Linked DNA regions of Homo sapiens. The protein of the gene in region 4 interacts with the protein of the main gene of each other region in a pairwise test. Each region holds a gene or a part of one and is shown on either strand. Other genes may lie near its edges.

What was found.
Region 1: the proteins of SGF29 (region 4) and LZTS1 interact in binary tests that used the Homo sapiens proteins (3 or more experiments, as listed by UniProt).
Region 2: the proteins of SGF29 (region 4) and SYCE3 interact in binary tests that used the Homo sapiens proteins (3 or more experiments, as listed by UniProt).
Region 3: the proteins of SGF29 (region 4) and DBF4B interact in binary tests that used the Homo sapiens proteins (3 or more experiments, as listed by UniProt).

What each region holds. Positions count from the first base shown.
Region 1 is NC_000008.11:20,255,326-20,260,183, forward strand, and holds part of LZTS1 (leucine zipper putative tumor suppressor 1), read right to left. Parts: intron 1-4,858. UniProt on the Homo sapiens protein: Involved in the regulation of cell growth. May stabilize the active CDC2-cyclin B1 complex and thereby contribute to the regulation of the cell cycle and the prevention of uncontrolled cell proliferation. May act as a tumor suppressor.
Region 2 is NC_000022.11:50,559,982-50,565,300, forward strand, and holds the start of SYCE3 (synaptonemal complex central element protein 3), read right to left. Parts: upstream 2,939-5,319; 5' UTR 2,877-2,938; intron 2,098-2,876; exon of another isoform or gene 1,812-2,097; intron 1-1,811. UniProt on the Homo sapiens protein: Major component of the transverse central element of synaptonemal complexes (SCS), formed between homologous chromosomes during meiotic prophase.
Region 3 is NC_000017.11:44,731,445-44,736,302, reverse strand, and holds part of DBF4B (protein DBF4 homolog B), read right to left. Parts: exon of another isoform or gene 4,126-4,858; coding exon 4,038-4,125; exon of another isoform or gene 3,954-4,037; intron 2,214-3,953; coding exon 2,140-2,213; exon of another isoform or gene 2,122-2,139; intron 1-2,121. UniProt on the Homo sapiens protein: Regulatory subunit for CDC7 which activates its kinase activity thereby playing a central role in DNA replication and cell proliferation. Required for progression of S and M phases.
Region 4 is NC_000016.10:28,576,946-28,582,435, reverse strand, and holds part of SGF29 (SAGA-associated factor 29), read right to left. Parts: intron 1,382-5,490; 5' UTR 1,367-1,381; coding exon 1,292-1,366; intron 1-1,291. UniProt on the Homo sapiens protein: Chromatin reader component of some histone acetyltransferase (HAT) SAGA-type complexes like the TFTC-HAT, ATAC or STAGA complexes.

The DNA.
Region 1 (4,858 bases), on a different chromosome or scaffold from region 4:
ACACAAGACAGAAGTCAGCGTGGGTGGGAGTGGTCACAGCACAGTGCTGATTCCGACTTCCAGATCTGGGCAGTAGAGAAACACATGTCAGAGCCCAGCACTGTCTCCACCACCGGGTGCTCCGTTCCTTCTTCCTTTGTCTGATAATTCAACAAACATTCACTGGGAGCCCACTTCATGCAAGCCTCTACTCTAAACACTCGGGACCCAGCAAGTGACTAAAACAGTCACAGTCCCTGCATTCCTGGAACTTAGGGTTACAGTGGTGTGGAGAGGCCAGAAGCAAACCAATGTATACTATAGCAAGTGGTACCAGTGCTGCGGGTACCAGTGCTGCGGGTACCAGTGCTGCGGGGGAAACTGGAGCAGAGAGGACAGAACAGAATTCTGGGAGGTGGCTGTTTTATGCAGGAAGGTCTTCTTTTGTTAGGGTAGCATTTTAAAAGGCTTCAAGAAAATGAGGGGGCAGCCAGGCATGATGGTTCACACCTGTAATCCCAGCACTCTGGGAGGCTGAGGTGGGCAGATTGCTTGAGTCCAGGAGTTCGAGACCAGCCTGTGCAACTTAGAGAAACCCCATTTCTACTAAAAATACAAAAATTAGCCGGGCGTAGTGGTGCACACCTGTAATCCCAGCTACTTGGGAGGGTGAGGTGGGAGAATCGTCTGAGCCCCGGGGATCAAGGCTGCAGTGAGCCACAATTGTGCCACTGCACTCCAGCCTGGGCCTGACTCAAAAAAAAAAAAAAAAAAAAAAAAGAAGAAGAAGAAAAGAAAATGAGGTGCAAGTCATATGAAAATCTAGGGGGAGAGGGGTACCAGAAGAAACCCCAAGTATAAAAGCCTGAGTCCCTGAGGCAGAGGGGGCTTGGCTGTGTGAGACCCACATGGGAAGCAGCCTGGCTGGAGAACAATTAGCAAGGCTGGGAAGGAGAAACAGAAACCAGGAGCCAGCAGACATCAGAGAACAAGGAGGCTGTGCAGCTCAAAGAGCTCTGGCTTTGCTTGGGTTGAGACAAGGAGCCCCTGGATGGCTTTAAGCAGCTGACACCTTGATCTGCCTTAGGTTGGGGAAGGTCACTCTGGCTTCCGGGTGGGGAAGAAGCTTATTGAGGAGACGGGGGATAGAAGTGGTGGCCAATTACAGGCTAATAGTCTAGGGTGGTAGTTGTGGATTTAGATGTGGTGGTGGCTCACGTCTGTAATCCCAGCATTTTGGGAGGCCAAGGCAGGAGGATCACTTGAGGCCAGGAGTTCAAGACCAGCCTGGGCAACACAGTGAGACCCTGTCTCTAAAAAACAGTTTTCAATGTAATTTTGAGGTTGAGCTGACAGGACTTGCTAAAGGATCAGATGTAGGGAGTGAGCGAAAGAGAGGAGTCAGGGACAATGCCAAAGAGAGGAGTTTGGTTGAAGACATTCAGTTTGCAAAGCCTATTTGGCATCCAGGGAGTGATGGAGAGTAGGCAGGAGGGTGAGTGGGCAGCTGCTGGGAGCTGCAGATGCACTTGTCAGAGCTGGGAGTGTGGAAGTGGCTATGAGACTAGATGGGGTCACCAAAGAGCGGATGCAGAAAGACAAGAGAGGCCTGAGGATGGTTAACATGGAGCACTCGGCATCTGGAGGTCAGGCAGGTTAGGAGAAGTGAAAAAGAGCAGCAGAGAAGGTTTTCAGGGTGATGTCGATATAGAAGACCTAAGAAAGCCAAGTCAAGAAATTGTTTCCTAAAAATGGTGTCAAATGGCCAGGCGCAATGGCTCAAGCCTGTAATCCCAGCACTTTGGGAGGCCAAGGTGGGCAGATCACTTGAGGTCAAGGGTTTGAAACCAGCCTGGCTAACATGGTGGAACCCCGTCTCTACTAAAAATATAAAAAATTAGCCAGGCAAATTGGGCATGGTGGCACGCACCTGTAGTCCCAGCTACTGAGGAAGCTGAGGCATGAGAATAGCTTGAACCCAGGAGGCGGAGGTTGCAGTGAGCTGAGATCACGCCACTGCACTCCAGCCTGGGCAACAGACTGAGTTCCTGTCTCAAAAAAAAAAGTTGTCAAGTGCTGCTGAAAGTAAGATAACAATTGAGAATTAGTCAATGCATTTGGCCATGTGGAGATCTTTGGTAACCTTGACAAGAGCAGTTTTGGAGGAATGGTGGAAGGAAGGCCTCATTGAGAAGATTCAAGAGAGAAAGAAGGAGAAAGTCATTACAGCCTTAATGTTGAGAAGTACCCAGCCGACTTGGTGTGCATTCTAGTTACATCACCTGCCAGCTATGACATGGAAGGTAAACTGTTTAATATCTTTAACCTTCAGTGTTACAAACTAATTCTAAGACACCCTTAAACTTTTTTTTTTTTTTTTTTTGAGATAGAGTCTCACTCTGTTGCCCAGGCTGGAGTGCAGTGGCATGATCTTGGCTCACTGCAACCTCCACCTCGCGGGTTCAAATGATTCTCCCACCTCAGTCTCCCACATAGCTGGGATTACAGGTGAGCACCACCATGACTGGCTGGCTAATCTTTGTATTTTTAGTAGAGATGGGGTTTTCCCATGTTGGCCAGGCTGGTCTCGAACTCCTGACCTCAGGTGATCCACCTGCCTAGGCCTCCCAAAGTGCCGGGATTATAGGCGTGAGCCACCGGACTGGGCACATTTTTTTTTTAAAGTAATAGGATAGCATCTAATAATCAATGCTTAAACAATAACAACCTTGTCAGTCACCAGACAGGAGAAATTGGGATGTCAGTGCCAGCACATGTGCAGATTCAGGCAAATCTCTAAGTTTAGATCACACAATTTTCAAAGCTAGGAAAGGTTGGTGATTGTCATGCACTGTGAAGTATTTCTTAGTCAAAAGACAGATATCCAATTAAGAAGGGGAAAGCCACAAGTTTAATAAAACAGGAGATGTGGAAGGAGCCTCTGTTCTTCGCTGAGCTCTAAATTATACCATCCATCCTAAAGGGGCTAAAGAAATCCCAGGTGGGACATGGAGAACTGCATGGGCACAGCTGAAAGGGAGCCAGAAACTTTCTGACTCTGTTTTTTAATTTTAATTTTATTATATATATATTTTTTACAATTAGCAGTTGTGCATGGAGACTCTGTGACTCTGAATATCTAGGCTTCGATTCAAACTTGCGTTATCATCCTGAAGAATAAAGAGGTTATGTTATGAATATGTTCTATATTTTGTTAGGAAAAGCATGACACAACAAAACTTCGTTGTGTAAGTTTAATATGTTTTGATGTGAAAAGCTTTTATTGAATTGATGGCTTTGTATACTCGAGGAAATACAGTGAAGCAGCCTACCTCATAGGATCGTTATGAGAAATTTAAGAAATACCACCATAAGATAACAGCTCTGGAACATTTACTCAATACTTAGTACATAGTGGGCACTCAATAAATGCTAGGCAGTGTTATCGGTATCTGTTACTTATATTGTGACCATTGTCCTTGCCAACATCCATCATCCCTATGGATCTGGGGAGCCTCAATGTCCAAACTCACTTTCCAGAGCTAATCCTTTCCTTCTAAATGCAACCTTTCTGCCTCCCATTCCTGCGAGGTGTGACTTAGGAGCACAGGGTGGCTCTGCTGATATAAACTTGACACTGACAAAATGTGTTTTCATCCCCCTAGGTCATCCATCCCTAGCTTAGCTAACACCTCTAGTTCCTATGGGGCGAAAATACTACTCTGGTCCACATGCAGGGGTGTCATTTTGGGCCAAAAGACCCTCCCGTGCTCTGCGCAATATGCTCAGCTCCTCCTTTTTTTGCCATGCAATACACATTGCCGAGCAGCTGTACCTGCAGGGCTGTACAGACCAGACCATCAGCTGTGGCATCGGCAGGAGTTTGATTTGAAAATCAATCTCTCTGAGGTTTCTTCATTTACAAACTGAAAATATTAATATTAAATAGGAACATTAGGGAGCCGAAACAAACAGAAGGAAAATACAAGGCCTGGCATGTAGTAGGCGATCTACAGATGTGTGCACGATATGTGTTGCCTTCAAGCCTATGACACCGCTGGAGGCTATTGACAGTATCAGTGCATCGGTGCTAAATGAATCTGTTTATGGTTCTCATCCATCTCCTCTCACCTCCATCTCCTCTCACCTGGGCCTTGAAGGAGCCTCCCAATGTCTTTCCCCAGTCTGTTCATCAGACACATCTGAAGCGTCCAGGTCATAGCACTTCCTAATGGGAACCCTTCCAGTCTTCCCACTGTGTTAGAGTACAATGCGGACTCCTCACCTTGTCCCGCCATGTCCCAGGGACAGACACACTCATCTCTTTCCTGGTGGGTGAACATACGAAGTCTTGACCCATCCAGGAGACTCTGCACTTGCTGCTGCTTCCCCTGCCTGGAATTCTCCTCCTTGGGCTCTTCACATACATCAGCCTTTCTCATTTTCTAGTTCTCAACTTGAGTCTCATGTCTGCAAGGTGGCTTTCTCCAGTTAATCTTGAAACCCTTGCATCCCTCCCCGATTACTTTCTACCAACCTGTTTATTCCCTGTGTAAGGCTTGCTCTCACCTGTACTAATCTTATTATTTTTTATTTATTTTTAAATTTTAGAAACAGAGTCTCATTCTGTCATCCAAGCTGGACTGCAGTAGGTAACAGTGATCACAGCTCACTGCAGCCTCCAGCTGCTGGGCTCAAGTGATCTTCCCACCTTAGCCCCAGAGTAGATGGGATGACGGCACATACCATTACTCCTGGCTAATTAAATAATTCTTTTGTAGAGACAGGGGTCTCGCTGTGTTGCCCATGCTGGTCTTAAACTCCTGACCTCAAGCTATCCTCCCACCTTGGCCTCCCAAAGCACTGGGATTACAGGTGT
Region 2 (5,319 bases), on a different chromosome or scaffold from region 4:
AGGTCACACTGGCAATCTTGACAGGAGCTGTTTTCATGGAGTGGCTGGAACAAGAGCCCAATCGAAATGTTTCTAAAGAGAGGGAAGGAGAAGTAGAAACTGGTGAGTTTTACTTCAAAGAGAAGCAGAGAAACATGCCAGTACCTGGAATGTAATGTAGAGTCACAGGGGTATTTTATTTTAAGTTGGGAGATATTACACCAGTGTCAAAGATTACAGTATTTGGGCATGGCAGGCCCAGGCATGGTAGCTCATGCCTGGAATCCCAGTGCTTTGGGAGGCTAAAGCAGGAGAAATGCTTGAAGCCAGGAGTTTCAGACCAGCCCGGGCAACAGTCTCTACAAAAAAATTTAAAAATAGCTGGGTGTGGTGGTGCGCACCTCCAGTCCTAGTTACTCAGGAGGGTGAGGTGGGACAATTGTGCCACAGCACTCTAGACTAGGCTACAGAGGAAGATCTGGAAGATCCCCTCTGCAAAATGAAAAAAAGGGCTCAGTAAATTCAAGATATTTGATTTGGGTGTCACTGGTCAACTCGGTGAGACGTTTCAGGAGAGCCATAAAAGTAAAAATATTTCATGAATTAAATAATTAATGGATCATTAGACAAAATGGATTGTGTGTACAGATTTAGATGGGAAGGGGAGAAAAAAACAGGAGGTAACTAGAAGGTGATACAGAGTCAAGGTTTTTTGTTTTTTGAATTCTTCGTTTCTAGGCTGTGTGGAAAGAGCTACCTGGACAGAAAAGCCTGAAGAATCAGAAGAAAGGGCAACTGATGGTGCAGGGACTGGTCTCAGACAAGTAAGGGGTCATTTCACCCTATGAAGGTAAGGGAAGGTAAGGAGGTAGAGATAGAATAAGGTAGGTAGAGGTCAAGGTAGGATGGCAAGGGGGGGATTTCAGGCCCGATGGTCTCTAACTCCCTAATAAATGGCAATGAAAAGTTTCTTCTTGTAACAACAGACATTCTTGGTTTGAGGAGAACGATAAAGCTTTATCAAAGCTGCATGCCTCCCTAGGGGCACCTAGGCATGTGACTGAGGCCACATGGCCACAGTGTCCTCAGGACCCTAAGACGGCACAGAGACAGTGGATGGAGTGTAGAAGGCCTGGGAACGTAAACATACATGCAGTGGATGGACAAGGTAAGGACACTGAGAGCACAAGTATGAGAGTGGCTTAAGGGGTGGTTGATGGTTGGGGTGAAGCAGAGGCATAGAAAAGACATGTAGTTTCTATAAGTGGGGCGTTGGGGTGGCCACAGGTAGATTTGGGGATAGAGCATGAGACTGCTAGAAGGATGGAGGCTGGGCCGGAGTGGCACTGGATCTCAGAAGAGGGATGGATCTGAAAAGGAGATCCAGGGAGAGGGTGTGAGAGCTGATGTGGAGGAAGCAGCCACAGGATTAGAATTCACGGCATTTCTTGCCTAATGAGGTTGCCTGGGATGACTGGGAACGGGTGGAGAAAGAGGCCTGAGCCCGCACCAAAGCACAATGGAACGGAGCTTAGGATGGGTGGCGGAAGTGTGGGGCGGGAGGAGCGTGGGGCGGGAGGAGTGTGGGGCGGGAGCGTGGGGCGGGAGTGTAGGGTCTGGCTTGGGTATCACTTTAGGTGTGAAGGACGGGGGTTGAGCGAGTCAGAGCCTAGAGTCTGGTTTGTGGTCTGAGTGTCTTGCCTGGTACGAAGAGTTTCTAACAGAGTCTGGGATCCCTCTGAGAACAAGGAATGTGAGGGGATAAGAGGGATGCTTGGTGCAGAGATGTGCTCTTTTGTACGGGATGAGAGCAGCACAGGAAGGGAATGCACCTGTGATGTGGGAGAGAAGTCTTGGAGTTGGGCTATGAAGAGTCTGGGCGGGTCCTGAAGTGCAGGTGGAGGAAGCCAGAGGTGCGTGTGGGAACTTGGGGTGTGAGGTGGTGTGTGGACTCCGGGGTCCCAGGTGTGGCAGGTGTGAGGGTAAGAGGGGCAGGCTGCACGGAATGAGAAGCCCAGGGTGTGCAGACTTCAGGATCAGGAGTGTATGGTGTGAGGACATGGAGATTAGGTTAAGGGGGTGAAGGACTGAGGTGAGGGATGTAAGGTGGGGAGAGTGGGGTATGGAGTGTGCAGTGAGGGGAGCGGGGGAGGGGTGAGGCGGGGTGAGGCGGGGTGAGGAGGGGTGAGGGGTGAGGCGGGGTGAGGGGTGAGGCGGGGTGAGGGGTGAGGCTGGGTGAGGAGGCGGGTGAACGGTGACGTGAGCGATGAGGGGTGAGGGGCGAGGCGGGTGAGGCGGGGTAAGGAGGGGTGAGGCGGGGTGAGGGGTGAAGGGTGAGGCGGGGTGAGGGGTGAAGGGTGAGGCGGGGTGAGGGGTGAGGGGTGAGGCGGGGTGAGGGGTGAAGGGTGAGGCGGGGTGAGGGGTGAAGGGTGAGGCGGGGTGAGGGGTGAGGCGGGGTGAGGGGTGAGGCGGGGTGAGGGGTGAGGGGTGAGGCGGGGTGAGGAGGGGTGAGGGGTGAGGGGCGAGGCGGGTGAGGCGGGGTGAGGAGGGGTGAGGGGTGAGGCGGGATGAGGGGTGAGGGGTGAGGCGGGATGAGGGGTGAGGGGTGAGGCGGGGTGAGGGGTGAGGCGGGGTGAGGGGTGAGGGGCGAGGCTGGGTGAGGAGGCGGGTGAGCGGTGACGTGAGCGATGAGGGGTGAAGGGTGAGGCGGGGTGAGGGGCGTCGGGGGAGGGGCATGGGGTGTGGAGTGAGTGGAGTCGGGTGAGTGGAGTTGGGTCGAAGTCAAGGGTCTGGCTTGAGGTTGGTGCCACCGCGAACGCTAGGACAGGGTCAGGCGGAGCCCAGCCGTCAGGGCGCGTTGGGAGGGCCGGGGCCCAGGGGGGCGCGGCCTCGCTCACCTCCAGCTTGGCCCGCGCTCCGGTCCTGCTCTGGCGCCCCCAGCGGCCGCTTGAGGAACAAGGCCGCTCCTCGAGAGGGATGCCCCGCCCTTTCCGTTAGCGAACCCTCCCCGGAAGTGACCTCTCGCCCTCATTGGGTGTCCTCGGGAAAAGGGGCGGGGCATTCCGCGCTGCTCCCACAGGTCTGCGGCGTCCGAGTCTGGGACTGGCAGGTGCGGTGCTGGGGACGTCCTGAGGTTGAGGGAGAATCCTGCGGAGATGAAGAGCTTCCCGGCCTGACAGTTTTGCCCCCACCTCCTTCTTGAGCTTAAGGATTTATACGCAGGGCCCCGTTTGCCTGCTGTGTCCCCAGTGTCCAGGACAGCGCCCGGTACCAAAGGTGCTGGTAAACATTTGTCGAATGAGTCGCTGAACGCCCAGCTATTTCCACTGTCACAGCGATCATGTGTGGCGGACATTATGTGGCATGTATCTTACAGAGGAGGCAGCCCGGGCTCAGGGAGACGAGGCAGAGGTGCACGCAGGTCTATGTGGGCTGGAAAGTGCTGGGGCCTCCCGGGCGCTCCTGGTCTCCAGGCAAGAACTGGAAGCAGAGCCACTCAACACCTAGAAGGGCAGTGACAGAAAGCTCTGGCTGGGAGGAGGCTGACCAGAGGCCAGTCTGAGCTCAGCCTTTTTTTTCAGAGGGACGTGGGCACCCTAGAAGGGTGGTAAGTAGGCGAGTGGCAGAGTTAAAAGGTCTCTGGCTGCCGAGGCGGGTGGCGACGGGGCCGGCCGTTGCTGTTGTTTGGCTGAGTGGTGGACAGGGTCAAAGCCATTCCAAGGTCGACTTGACAGGGCTTGGTAATGTGGGAGGGAGGGAGAAAGAAGCAAGGGGCTAATGGCCGGGGTGATACCACTGGCAGAGATGTGGAAGAGTGGGAGAAGCTAGCTTGGAAGGTTAACTTTGATTTTGAACACCTTGTGTTTGAGAATCCTGACAAACCTTAGACCCCCTGAATTTTCTCTCAGGGATTCTGATTCTTAGCAGCCTGATTGCAGAGGAGGAAAAATGGCTGGGGTTGAGCCAGACAGTTCTGGGCAAGGAGTGAGCATTCGCTTGTTTATTGAGGAGGCTGCTGCCTGGGCCACACTCCCTCCGCCAGCTGCCAGGTTCCTGCCCCGGTTGAACCCGGTTTTCTGGCCATCCCTTTCCACCTGTGAGCTGCTCTTCATACTTCCATTTGCTTATACAGCCCAGAGCCGATTTCTGTTACAGCAGCCCAGAGAAACATGAATAGGGAATAATTCTTTTTTTTTTTTTTTGAGACGGAGTCTTGCTCTGTTGCCCAGGCTGGAGTGCAGTGGCACGATCTCGGCTCACTGCAACCTCCGCCTCCCAGGTTCAAGTGATTCTCCTGCCTCAGCCTCCCTAGTAGCTGGGATTACAAGCACATGCCACAACGCCCAGCTAGTTTTTGTATTTTTAGTAGAGACCGGGTTTCGCTATGTTGGCCAGGCTGGTCTCGAACTCCTGTCCTCAGGTGATCCACCCGCCTCGGACTCCCAAAGTGCTGGGATTACAGGTGTGAGCCACTGTGCTTGGCCCGAATCAGGAATAATTCTGATGGCTAAGGAAGACAGCTTCCGAGAGAGTAGGAGAAAGGGCACAGGATTCCAGGCAGAAGGCCCATCTAGGGCAAAGGCGAAGGTGTGGCTCAGCCTGCCTCCTTTGGGGAATGGCGAGTGTGTTCTGGGCTCAGGGTTCTTGGTAAGGGACAGAGAAGACTCGGGAAAGATCAGTTGAGCTGGAATGTGCAGGCTCTTGAGTACCCTGCTCAGGAGCTGGAGGTGGGCTACCCTGCAAACTCCAGGCCATGAAGCCCAGGAAGATGTCAGGCTGGTCTTCCCATGCCCTTGTGTATCTGAGACCAACTGTCACTAAATGTTTCCTTTACGCCCTGGACACACAGCTAGACTCTACTTCTCAGATTCTCTTGAAATACAAGTCTTTAGCCAGAGGGTGTGGAGGGAAATGCTGTGTATCACTTTGAGGTTGAGGCCATCAAAGCCTCCCACAGGTGGCCCCCTCTTTCTCTCCCCACGTACTTATGATGTTGATGCCCAAGGCAGCTTGAGTACTACCTGCTGAAGGCAGGGCCTCTGTCACCATAGATCCTTGAATAACAGTATGGAGCAGAGCCCTCATCTCAGCCAACTGGATTTTATCTGACCAACAGTCCAGCTTCTATTGGGTTGAGCCATGAGGTTTCAGGATTTATGTTATGGCTGCTAGCTTTTATTAATGCAGACCTGCAGACCTATGGGACATGGGGAACTAATTGGGGTTTGGGTTGTCATCAGAGGTTTATTTATTTTTTTAAGACAGGGTGTTGCTCTGTCACCTAGGCTGGAATGCAGTGGGTCAATCATGGCTCACTGCAGCCTCAATCTCTCAGGCTCA
Region 3 (4,858 bases), on a different chromosome or scaffold from region 4:
ATATTAAAAAGTAAATGGAGGCCGGGCGTGGTGGCTCACGTCTGTAATTTCAACATTTTGGTAGGCCGAGGCAGGTGGATTGCTTGAGCTCACAAGTTTGAGACCAGCCTGGGCAGCATAGTAAGACCCTATCTTTAAAAAAAAAAAAAAAAAATTAGCCAGGCATGGTGGCGCATGCCCGTAGTCCTAGCTACTTGGGAGGCTGAGGTGGGAGGATGGTTTGAGCCCAGGAGGTGGAGGTTGCAGTGAACAGAGATGGCGCCACTGCACTCCAGCCTGGGCGACAGAGCCAGACCTTGTCTCACAAAAAAAGTAAAGTAAAATAAACAAATAAAATAAAAAGAAAAAAGAGTAAATGGATCTTCTGGTATATACCTGAAAAATAAGTAAATAAATGTAAGATAAATGGAATAAAATAAAAAAATCAGCTTTAGCTGGAGGGCCAGGATGATGGTGGATCCATGACCACCTGTGCCTCTGGGCCTTAAGAAGTTCCAGATTCTCCTCTAGGCCACACCTTGGGGGCAAACACAATCCAAAGAAGCCTCTCACATTCCCTTGCGTATCAGCACATTACACCCAAAACTCACTTCACTGCTAGATATCTACAAAACTAATTTTTTTTTCTTTTTTTTGAGACAGAGTCTCACTCTGTTGCCCAGGCTGGAGTGCAGTGGTGTGATCTCAGCTCACTGCAACTTGTCTCCAGGGTTCAAGCGATTCTCCTGCCTCACCCTCCCAAGTAGCTGGGATTACAGGCATGCGCCACCACACATGGCTAATTTTGTATTTTAGTAGAGACAGGGTTTCACCATGTTGGCCAACTGGTCTCAAACTCCCGACCTCAAGCGATTCACCTGCCTCGGTCTCCCAAATTACTGGGATTACAGGCGTGAGCCACTGTGCCCGGCCTACAAAACTGATTAAGTTAAAGTAAAAATGCTGTGTATCTGCATAGAAGGGGGGAATTTTTGACATATTTGCTTCTATGTGCATAGAGTCCTAGAAACTGTTCACACTTTCAGGGAGGAAGGTCAGTGGTTGAGGAGAAGCTGGAGCAGGGCGAGAATTTTTGTTGTATACCCTTTTGAATTTTGAATAACACAAATTTAACAGCAGCAATGTCCCCAACACTCCTAGAGGAGAGGGTGTGGAGAGGGCGTCAGTGTCTGAATGCTCCATCCACTATTTTTTTATGTTTTTTTGAGACAGAATTTTGCTGTCGCCTAGGCTGGAGTGCAGTGGTGCGATCATGACTCATTGCAACATGTCTCCTGGGTTCAAGATTCTCCTGCCTCAGCCTCCTGAGTAGCTGGGATTACAGGCATGTGCCACCACGCCCGGCTAATTTTTGTATTTTTAGCACAGTCGGGGTTTCACCACACTGGCCAGGCTGGTCTTGAACTCCTGACCTCAAGTGATCTGCTGGCCTTGGCCTCCCAAAGTGCTGGAATTACAGGTGTGAGCCACCATGCCCAGCTGCTCCATCCACTTTGGATGTGGCTTGCTAGTTCTGTTAGCTAATTAGCACTGTTAACTAATAGCTATTACTGTTCGTCCTGTGCCTGGATGCCAGGCTGTGGGTAGATCTGTAGATTTAATCCTTCCTCAGATTGAGGCTTGGGTGAAGATACTGTGGCTTTAAACCAGGTTGGGCTCTCTTGATGTAGTACACACAGTTCTAACGCCAGCAAAGAATGGAAAACAAACAAGGATTTAGAAGATGGCAGCTATTTCAATCACTCCTTCTCACCCCTGCAGTATGCAGACTCGTTCCCAGTCTAGAGGCTGTACAGGGAAAGTTCCAGAATAGCAGCCTGGTCAGTGCCATGGGCATTTATGAACTTTATCTGGTCCAGAACTACTGTAGGGAGCCCATGGCCCAGGCAGTCCAGGCCATAGGGATGTCTCAGCAGGGTGTGTGCCATGGGAGGACTGCAAGTGCCACAGAGAAGAGAGAAGAAAGGGTGTTGCAAAGCTATGGGCACTAGGACTGAGGTAAATAAGAGGCTGCATTCCTCTTCCATCTTTCAGAATGGCCAGGAAGAGATGGTTTGGGTGGGCCATGGATTTACCTAAGTTGTCACTGATTTCATTGAAAACCATCCATTTGTCCTTCAGTTCAGCAGGATGACCTACCTCTGGCTTCTTTGGCTGTTGTTTTTTCACACATAAAGACGCAAGAGACAGCTGTTGCACGTGCATCATCATTTCTGTGGAGAAGACAGAGGGTTTGTGCCAAAGGCTTCCAGTCTTCACTTACCTAGCACAGCCCCTTCCTGGGCTGCAGGACTAAACTCGCTGGGCCAGCCCACTGAATCACTCCAGCCTTGCCTGCCACCTTCTGGCTACACATCCCCTCTGCATCTCCTGACAGCGGAGGTTAAGGACTGGGTCCTCTATCCCTGGAACAGCACCTGAGCGGGTGTCATGCTCTTTTGCAGCATTGAATACAACTCATCTTTGAACAGAAGGTGCCTCATGGCTTGCTAAGGACTTTAAGGCACCACTGAAGAGCTGTGGCTGTGAGGGAGGCCATGCTGTGTGAACTACTCAGCTGTACCCTCAGGTGAAAGACCAGCAAGGGCTAAACATGCTAGCACTCCTCTAACAGAGAAAGGCAGGGAAGGAAATCAAGTCAGAAATGGCTGATTTTTCAGTGAGATGAAGCCCTCCACATCCCAGACCAGGAACTTCCCCTGTACAGCCTCTAGACTCCCCTGGAAGATCTTGGTACCAAGGGGTGGGGCAGCGCCCCAGTCAGCACCTATGGGCTGTCCCATCTGGACCAATCCTCTAAAATGGATCACAGAAAACTCCAGACTCAAGAATGGAGCTGGGTATGAAACCACTCACTGCCACCTGGTTCAAGACAACTATTCTAGTGTAAACAGGCTGCAAACAGGTTGTTTACAGTGTGAAAAAAGAAGGAGCACAAAATTTACAGCTGAGTAAAACTGAGAGTGGTGGGCCACACTACACACTCTGGTGAGACCATGGACAATTTGCCTAATCCCTTTGAGGCTCAATTTCCTCATCTGTATAATGGGGACAGGACTGTAGTGAGGATTAAATGAGGTAATTCGTAGCACAGAGTCAATACCTGTTAGGTGGCCATGAATTTTTTTTTTTTTTTTTGAGACGGAGTCTCGCTCTGTCGCCCAGGCTGGAGTGCAGTGGCGCAATCTCGGCTCACTGCAAGCTCCGCCTCCCAGGTTCACGCCATTCTCCTGCCTCAGCCTCCCGAGTAGCTGGGACTACAGGCGCCCGCCACCACGCCCGGCTGATTTTTTGTATTTTTAGTAGAAAAGGGGTTTCACCGTGTTAGCCAGGATGGTCTCGATATCCTGACCTCGTGATCTGCCTGCCTCGGCCTCCCAAAGTGCTGGGATTACAAGCGTGAGCCACCGCACCTGGCCGAATTTTTTTTTTTTTTTGAGACGGAGTCTCGCTCTGTCACCCAGGCTGGAGTGCAGTAGCATGATCTTGGCTGACTGCAACCTCTGCCTCCTGGGTTCAAGTGATTCTCCTGCCTCAGCCTCCTGAGTAGCTGGGATTACAGGCACGCACCACCAGGCTCGGCTAATGCTTCTATTTTTAGTAGAGACGGGGTTTCACCACGTTGGTCAGGCTGGTCTCGAACTCTTGACCTTGTGATCCACCCGCCTTGGCCTCCCAAAGTGCTGGGATTACAGGTGTGAGCCACCTCGCCTGGCCAGTGGTCATGAATATTAAGATCATTTCTGCATTTGTAAAACAGGATCATCATACTAGCTGGGGGAGAGCTGTAGCAGGTGACATGAAACGGCATGTTCTAGGGACCTCCTGCGGGATGCCGAGGCCACAGCCTGCACTCTGCGTCCTCACCGCTTTCCCCCTTCCCCACATCCTCCCACCTTTGTGGATCAACATGGCAGCTGAGTATTTCTGGCTTCCGGTGACCAGAAGCTCACATGACCATGATCCTTCTAAAAGCTGACACTCCTGGTCAAAGTCACCAATTCTCCCTCCACAGGAGCCCAGCACAGAAAGGGTACCATCCACGTGCAGAATCCTCACTCCCCAAGAGCGGGCATTGGTCAGGAGGCTGCTGCTGCCCCCACTGCCTCCTCCACTGATGCTCCCCTGAAATTACAACACAGAGTCAGGTAGGAGCAGAGACTCCCCAAGGCCTGAAAGTGAAGGGGACAGATAGAAATTGCTTCTGGGAGGCCTGAGTCATCCATGGGAGGGACTGCAGGGAGGCAGGTAGGAGAGAGAGTACAGTGCCCAGAGAGTCCATCCCAACCCCCAGGAAGACATCCTGTCCTCCACATGGCCACATTGGGAGAGGAAGGACCACTGGTCTGCCTATACATTGTGCTCTGGCCACCTCGTGACCAGGAAGGAACAGATGCTTCTGAGAGAGCTGTTCGTTGGGAGGGCCTCTGCGAGGAAAGCTCTCAGCACAGTAAGTACACAACAAACACGGTGACCATCATCCTCACTGAGCATGAAACTATGCTAGCTGCAGATCTTCCCCCTCCACTGGCTCAGTCCAGCAGCACCACCTCCCCCATCACAGCCATGTACCCCTCCTGATGTCACCAGCATGACTCTTCTCACAAGATCACCTTAACTCCTCCTCCTGCCACTAAACTTTAACAGCCCTGGATTTTCACACAAGGAATAAAGAGTTACTTGTTTTTTGTTTTTTTTTTGAGACAGAGTCTAGCTCTATCGCCCAGGCTGGAGTGCAGTGGCACAATCTCGGCTCACTGCAACCTCCACCTCTCAGGTTCAAGTGATTCTTCTGCTTCAGCCACCTGCGTAGCGGGGACTACAGGTGCGTGCCACCACACCCTGCTAATTTTTCGGT
Region 4 (5,490 bases):
TCTGTGTGTTCTGCCGTTCTATGGGTTTGGACAACGCATCATGTTGCGTGCCCCCCATCATGGTACCCTGCAGAAGAGTTCCACCCCCTAAAATCCTCTGTGCTCCACCTATCCATCCCTTTCATCCTATCTCTCCCAAGGCCCTGGCTACCGCTCATCCTTTCACTCTCTAGTTTTGCTTTTCGTTTACAGTTGGAATACACAGCACGTAACCTTTCAGACTGGCATCTTTCACTTAGCAATGAGTGCCGGCATCTTCTGACTCTTACTCTCCAGGTTACGTCTAAAAGGAATACCATTTGGGAAGGAATTTCTGGGATCTACTCCTTCCTGGCTGTGCGGTGCACAACTGCCAGCAAACTGATCCTTGTGTAGCTATAAACCCTGAGTATCGTGGGCAAAATGTGGCAGAGCATGCCCGATAGCCTGCAGTGAGCTACAGGCACCAATACGCATCTCCCTTGTATCTGTGAAAGAAAAGATATCAAATAGGGGAAAAATGGCTTTTTTTTTTTTTGAGATGGAGTCTTGCTTTGTCACCCAGGCTGGAGTGCAGTGGCGCCATCTCGGCTCACTGCAACCTCTGCCTCCCGAGTTCAAGTGATTCTCCTGCCTCAGCCTCCCCAGTAGCTGGGATTATAGGCATCCGCCACCAAGCCTAGCTAATTTTTGTATTTTTAGTAGAGACAGCCAACATGGCAAAACCCCGTCTCTACTAAAAATACAAAAACAATTAGCCGGACATGGTGGTGTGTGCCTGTAATCCCAGCTACTAGGGAGACTGAGGCAGAAGAATCGCTTGAACCCAGGAGGCAGAGGTTGCAGTGAGCTGAGATCGCGCCACCGCACTCCAGCCTAGGTGACACAGTGAGACTCCGTCTCCAAAAAAAAAAGAGTGTTTTTGTTTGCCTGGATTAATAGGGTGGAAGGAAAAGATATGGGGCATTTTTGTTGGGTGTTAAAAATGTTCTGAAATTGATCGTGCTAATGGTTGCACAATTTTGTGAGCTGCGAAAAACCACTGGATTATACACTTTAAATGGGTGCGTTGTATGGCATGTGAATTCTATCTCAGGATAGCTGTCAAACAAAATGAATCATGAAATCCTGTACATGGTAGAAAATCCAACAGGAATGGTAGCCATACACCAAATTCCCCTCCTTTCACTTTTATTACGTCATTTTGGTTCCTGCGAGTCCAATCTCTCTGAACACAAATGCCACCCCCACTTCACGGCTCAGCATCAAAGCCCATGTTCCCATCTGGGAATGGAGGGTGGTGACTTTTTACCTGGGTTTGTTTGATCAGCTGATGGAGCTCTGTGAGAAGTTCTGCAATGCGGGAATCGGCAGACACGAGGGCCATTGTCTACAGGGGCACCTGGTGGGGGAGCGAGGACAGAAGAGAACTCTGTTAGTGGCTGCTGTGGGCTGAACTGTGCCCCCTCAAAAGATACATTAGGCCTGGAGGCTCATGCTGTAATCCCAGCACTTTGGGAGGCCAAGGCGGGAGGATTGCTTGAGGCCAGGAGTTCAAGACCAGCCTGGGCAACACGGAGACCCCGTCTTTACAAAAAAATTAAAAACTTAGCCCGGCATAGTGGCACACATCTGTAGTCCCAGCTATTCGAGAAGCTAAGGTGAGTGGATCGCTAGGCCCTAGGGGGTTGAGGCTGCATGAGCTACGATCGTGCCATTGCACTCCAGCCTACATGACAGTGTGACACCCTATCCCTTTAAAAGATAGTAATAATAAAAAGATACATTGTAGTCCTAACCATGGTACCTGTAATGTCACCTTGTTTGGAATTAGGGTCTTTGGAGAAGTATTTAAGATGTCACTAAGATGAAGTCATAGTGGAATAGGGTGTGCCCTTAATCCAGACACACAGCCAGGTGCAGACAGAAGCAGCGACTGGACTTGGACAGCTGCAAGCCAGGGGATGCCAAGGACTGCCGGCAGCCACCCATCCAGCCGGGAGAGATGCGCGGAGTAACGGCCCCGTCTAAGCCTCCAAGAAGCAACAATCCCTTGTCTTTGGAACCAAGCTGACATCTTGATTTTGGAATTATGGCCCCTAGAACTGTGATGGAATAAATTTCTCTTGTCTTAAGCCACCCAGCTTGCAGTAACTTGTTATGGCAGCCATAAGAAATGAATACAGTGGCAAGCTATCCTTGGATTCTCCTCCACCCTATTGATATGTTTGAATGTCATATGTTCGACGAAGTCAAGGAGTCAAGGAGTGTATAATTTTTGTATATAAATACAAAAATTAATATGAAGTGCCTTAAAAAGATAGCATGCCCTTAGCCCCTGCTCTGCTGCCAATATCCTGACAAATGATTCAAACATTTCTGGTATCCATATTTTAATCTGTAAAATGGGGATCATCTCTGCTATATTTTGGGAGATTCAAATAAGATTTTATATGAAGACACTTTCCAAGTCATAAAACGCTGTTACTTTCTTACTATAGTGGGAAGATAATTTTTTTTTTTTTGAGACGGGAGTCTTGCCCTGTCACCTAGGCTGGAGTGCAGTGGTGTGATCTTGGCTCACTGCAATCTCTGCCTCCCAGGTTCAAGCAATTCTCCTGCCTCAGCCTCCTGAGTAGCTGAGATTACAGGTGTGTGCCACCATGTCCAGCTAATTTTTGTATTTTTAGTAGAGATGGGGTTTCACCATGTTGGCCAGGCTGGTCTCAAACTCCTGACCTCAGGTGATCTGCTTGCTTCAGTCTCCCACAGTGCTGGGATTACAGGCGTGAGCCACCACGCCCAGCCAGCATGGGGAGAGAAACTACTGTAAAATATCTCAATCAAGATGAATGTACTCTGATGAAAATAAAATGCTTCTGTACAATAAAAGATAATTAGGGCCGGGCGTGGTGGCTCATGCCTGTAATCCCAGCACTTTGGGAGGCCGAGGAGGGCAGATCATGAGGTCAAGAGATCAAGACCATCCTGGCCAACATGGTGAAACCTTGTCTCTACTAAAAATACAAAAATTAGCTGGGCATGGTGGTGGGCACCTGTAGTCCCAGCTACTCAGGAAGCTGAGGCAGGAGAATTGCTTGAACCCGGGAGATGGAGGTTGCAGTGCGCCGAGATCACGCCACTGCACTCCAGCCTGGCGACAGAGTGAGACTCCGTCTCAAAAAAAAAAAAAAAAAAAGATAATTAGAACAAGAGTAAAAAGACAACCAAAAGTAATCAAGAGTGTAAGTTACAAGTAGGTGAAAATAGACATATGCCTCAAGATAAAGGTATATTTGATAAAATAAGGGGATATTTTTTACAGTGCTAAAATTTTGCACAATAGCCTGCATCTTACAAAGTTTGTTCAAGCTGGGGGCAGTGACTAACACCTGTAATCCCAGCACTTTGGGAGGCGAAGGTAGGAGGATGGTTTGAGTCCAGGAGCTCGAGATCAGCCTGGACAATACAGCAAGACCCTGTCTCTATTTTTATTTTTTATTTATTTATTTTTTGAGATAGAGTCTTGCTCTGTCGCCCAGGCTAGAGTGCAGCGGTGCGATCTCTGCTCACTGCAACCTCGGCATCCTGGGTTCAAGCGATTCACCTGCCTCAGCCTCCAGAGTAGCTGGGATTACAGGCACCCGCCACCTTGCCTGGCTAATTTTTTGTATTTTTAGTAGAGACGGGGTTTCACCATCTTGGCCAGGCTGGTCTCAAACTCCTGACCTCGTGATCCACCCACCTCGCCCTCTTTTTTTTTTTTTTTTTTAAAGTTGTTCAACTAACACATCCTCCTACTCACAGAGATCAGATTCACGATGAATGGAGTAAACTCTTCCCCCCACTTAATCAACTGCGAACCTCTCGCCATGTATTTATTCATATCTTCTTACATGCTCTGCTGCTGCTATTTAAAAGTATAATAACATACAAACTAGGAATAGAGGGTAACCTCCTCAACCTGATGAAGGGCATCTATGAAAAACCCACAACGAACATCAGACTTAAAGGCGAAAGATTAAAAGCTTTCCCCTAAGTCAGGAACAAGATGAGCATGGGCCCTTGTCATTTCTAGTCAACATTGTTCTGGAGGCTCTCGCCAGGGCAATGAGGCAATAAGATGAAATAAAAGGCATCCACATTGGAAAGGAAGAAGTACAACTATTTCTATTTGCAGATGACATGACCTTGTATATAGAAAACCCTAAGGAATCCATTAAACAACTATTAGGACTAAGACAAGGTTAGAACTCATAGCAAAGTTGCAGGATACGAGATCAATAAACAAAACTCAATTGTGGCCAGGCCCCAGAGGCTCACGCCTGTAATCCCAGCACTTTGGGAGGCTGAGGCGGGAGGATCACTTGCAGCCAGGGGTCCAGACGAGCCTAGGCCACCAGACGAGCCTGAGCCCCACTTCTACTTTATAAATTTTTTAACTTTAAAAAAAGAAAGCTACAGTAATCAAGATGTTGTAAGCAAAGACATCTAGTTCAATGGAATAGAACTGAGAAACCAGAAATGGTCGACTAATTTTCAACAAGGGTGTCAAGACAAATTAGTGGGGAAAGAATAATCTTTTCAACAAATGGTACTGGGACAACTGAATATCCACATGTAAAAGAATGAATCTGGTTCCCTATCTCAGCCCATATACAAAAATGATCTGAATAGACAGTTCTCCAAAGAAGACATATAAATGATCACCAAGCACATGACAAGATGCTCCGTATCATTAGCCATTGGGAAATGCAAGTCAAAACTACTGAAGACACCACTTCACACCTACAATAAAAAAGAGACAAGAGTTGGGAAGGAGGTAGAGAAACTACACGAATGCATAAAGTGTGATATTATCCATACAGTGGAATATTACTTGACAGTAAAAAGAAATGAAGTACTGAGACACGCTATGACATGGATGAACCTTGAAAACATTATGCTAAGTGAAAGAAGCTGCAATCACAGAAGACCACATAATTGTGTTTCCATTTACGTGAAATATCCAGAATAGCCGAATCCATAGAAAGCTGGGTGGGGAAGGGTTGGGAGAGAAAGGACAGCGACTATTAATGAGTATGGGTTTTTTTGTTTTTTTTTTTTGGCCAGGTGTTGAAAATGTTCTAAAATTGTGCTGATGGTTGCACAACTCTGAATATACTAAAAACCAATGAATTGCACACTTTAAATACATGGTACATGGCCACCCCACCCCCAGGCAAATATTAATTTACTTTCTGTCTCTTTAGATTTATGTAGTCTGCACTTTTTTTTTTCTTTTTTAATGAGACAGAGTCTCGCTGTGTCACCGAGGCTGGAGTGCAATGGCACGATGTTGGCTCACTGCAACCTCCGCCTCCCGGGTTCAAGTGTTTCTCCTGCCTCCCAAGTAGCTGGGACTATAGGCGCCCACCACCACGCCCGGCTAATTTCTGTATTCTTAGTAGAGACGGGGTTTCGACATGTTAGCCAGGCCGGTCTCGAATGTCTGACCTTGGGTGATACGCC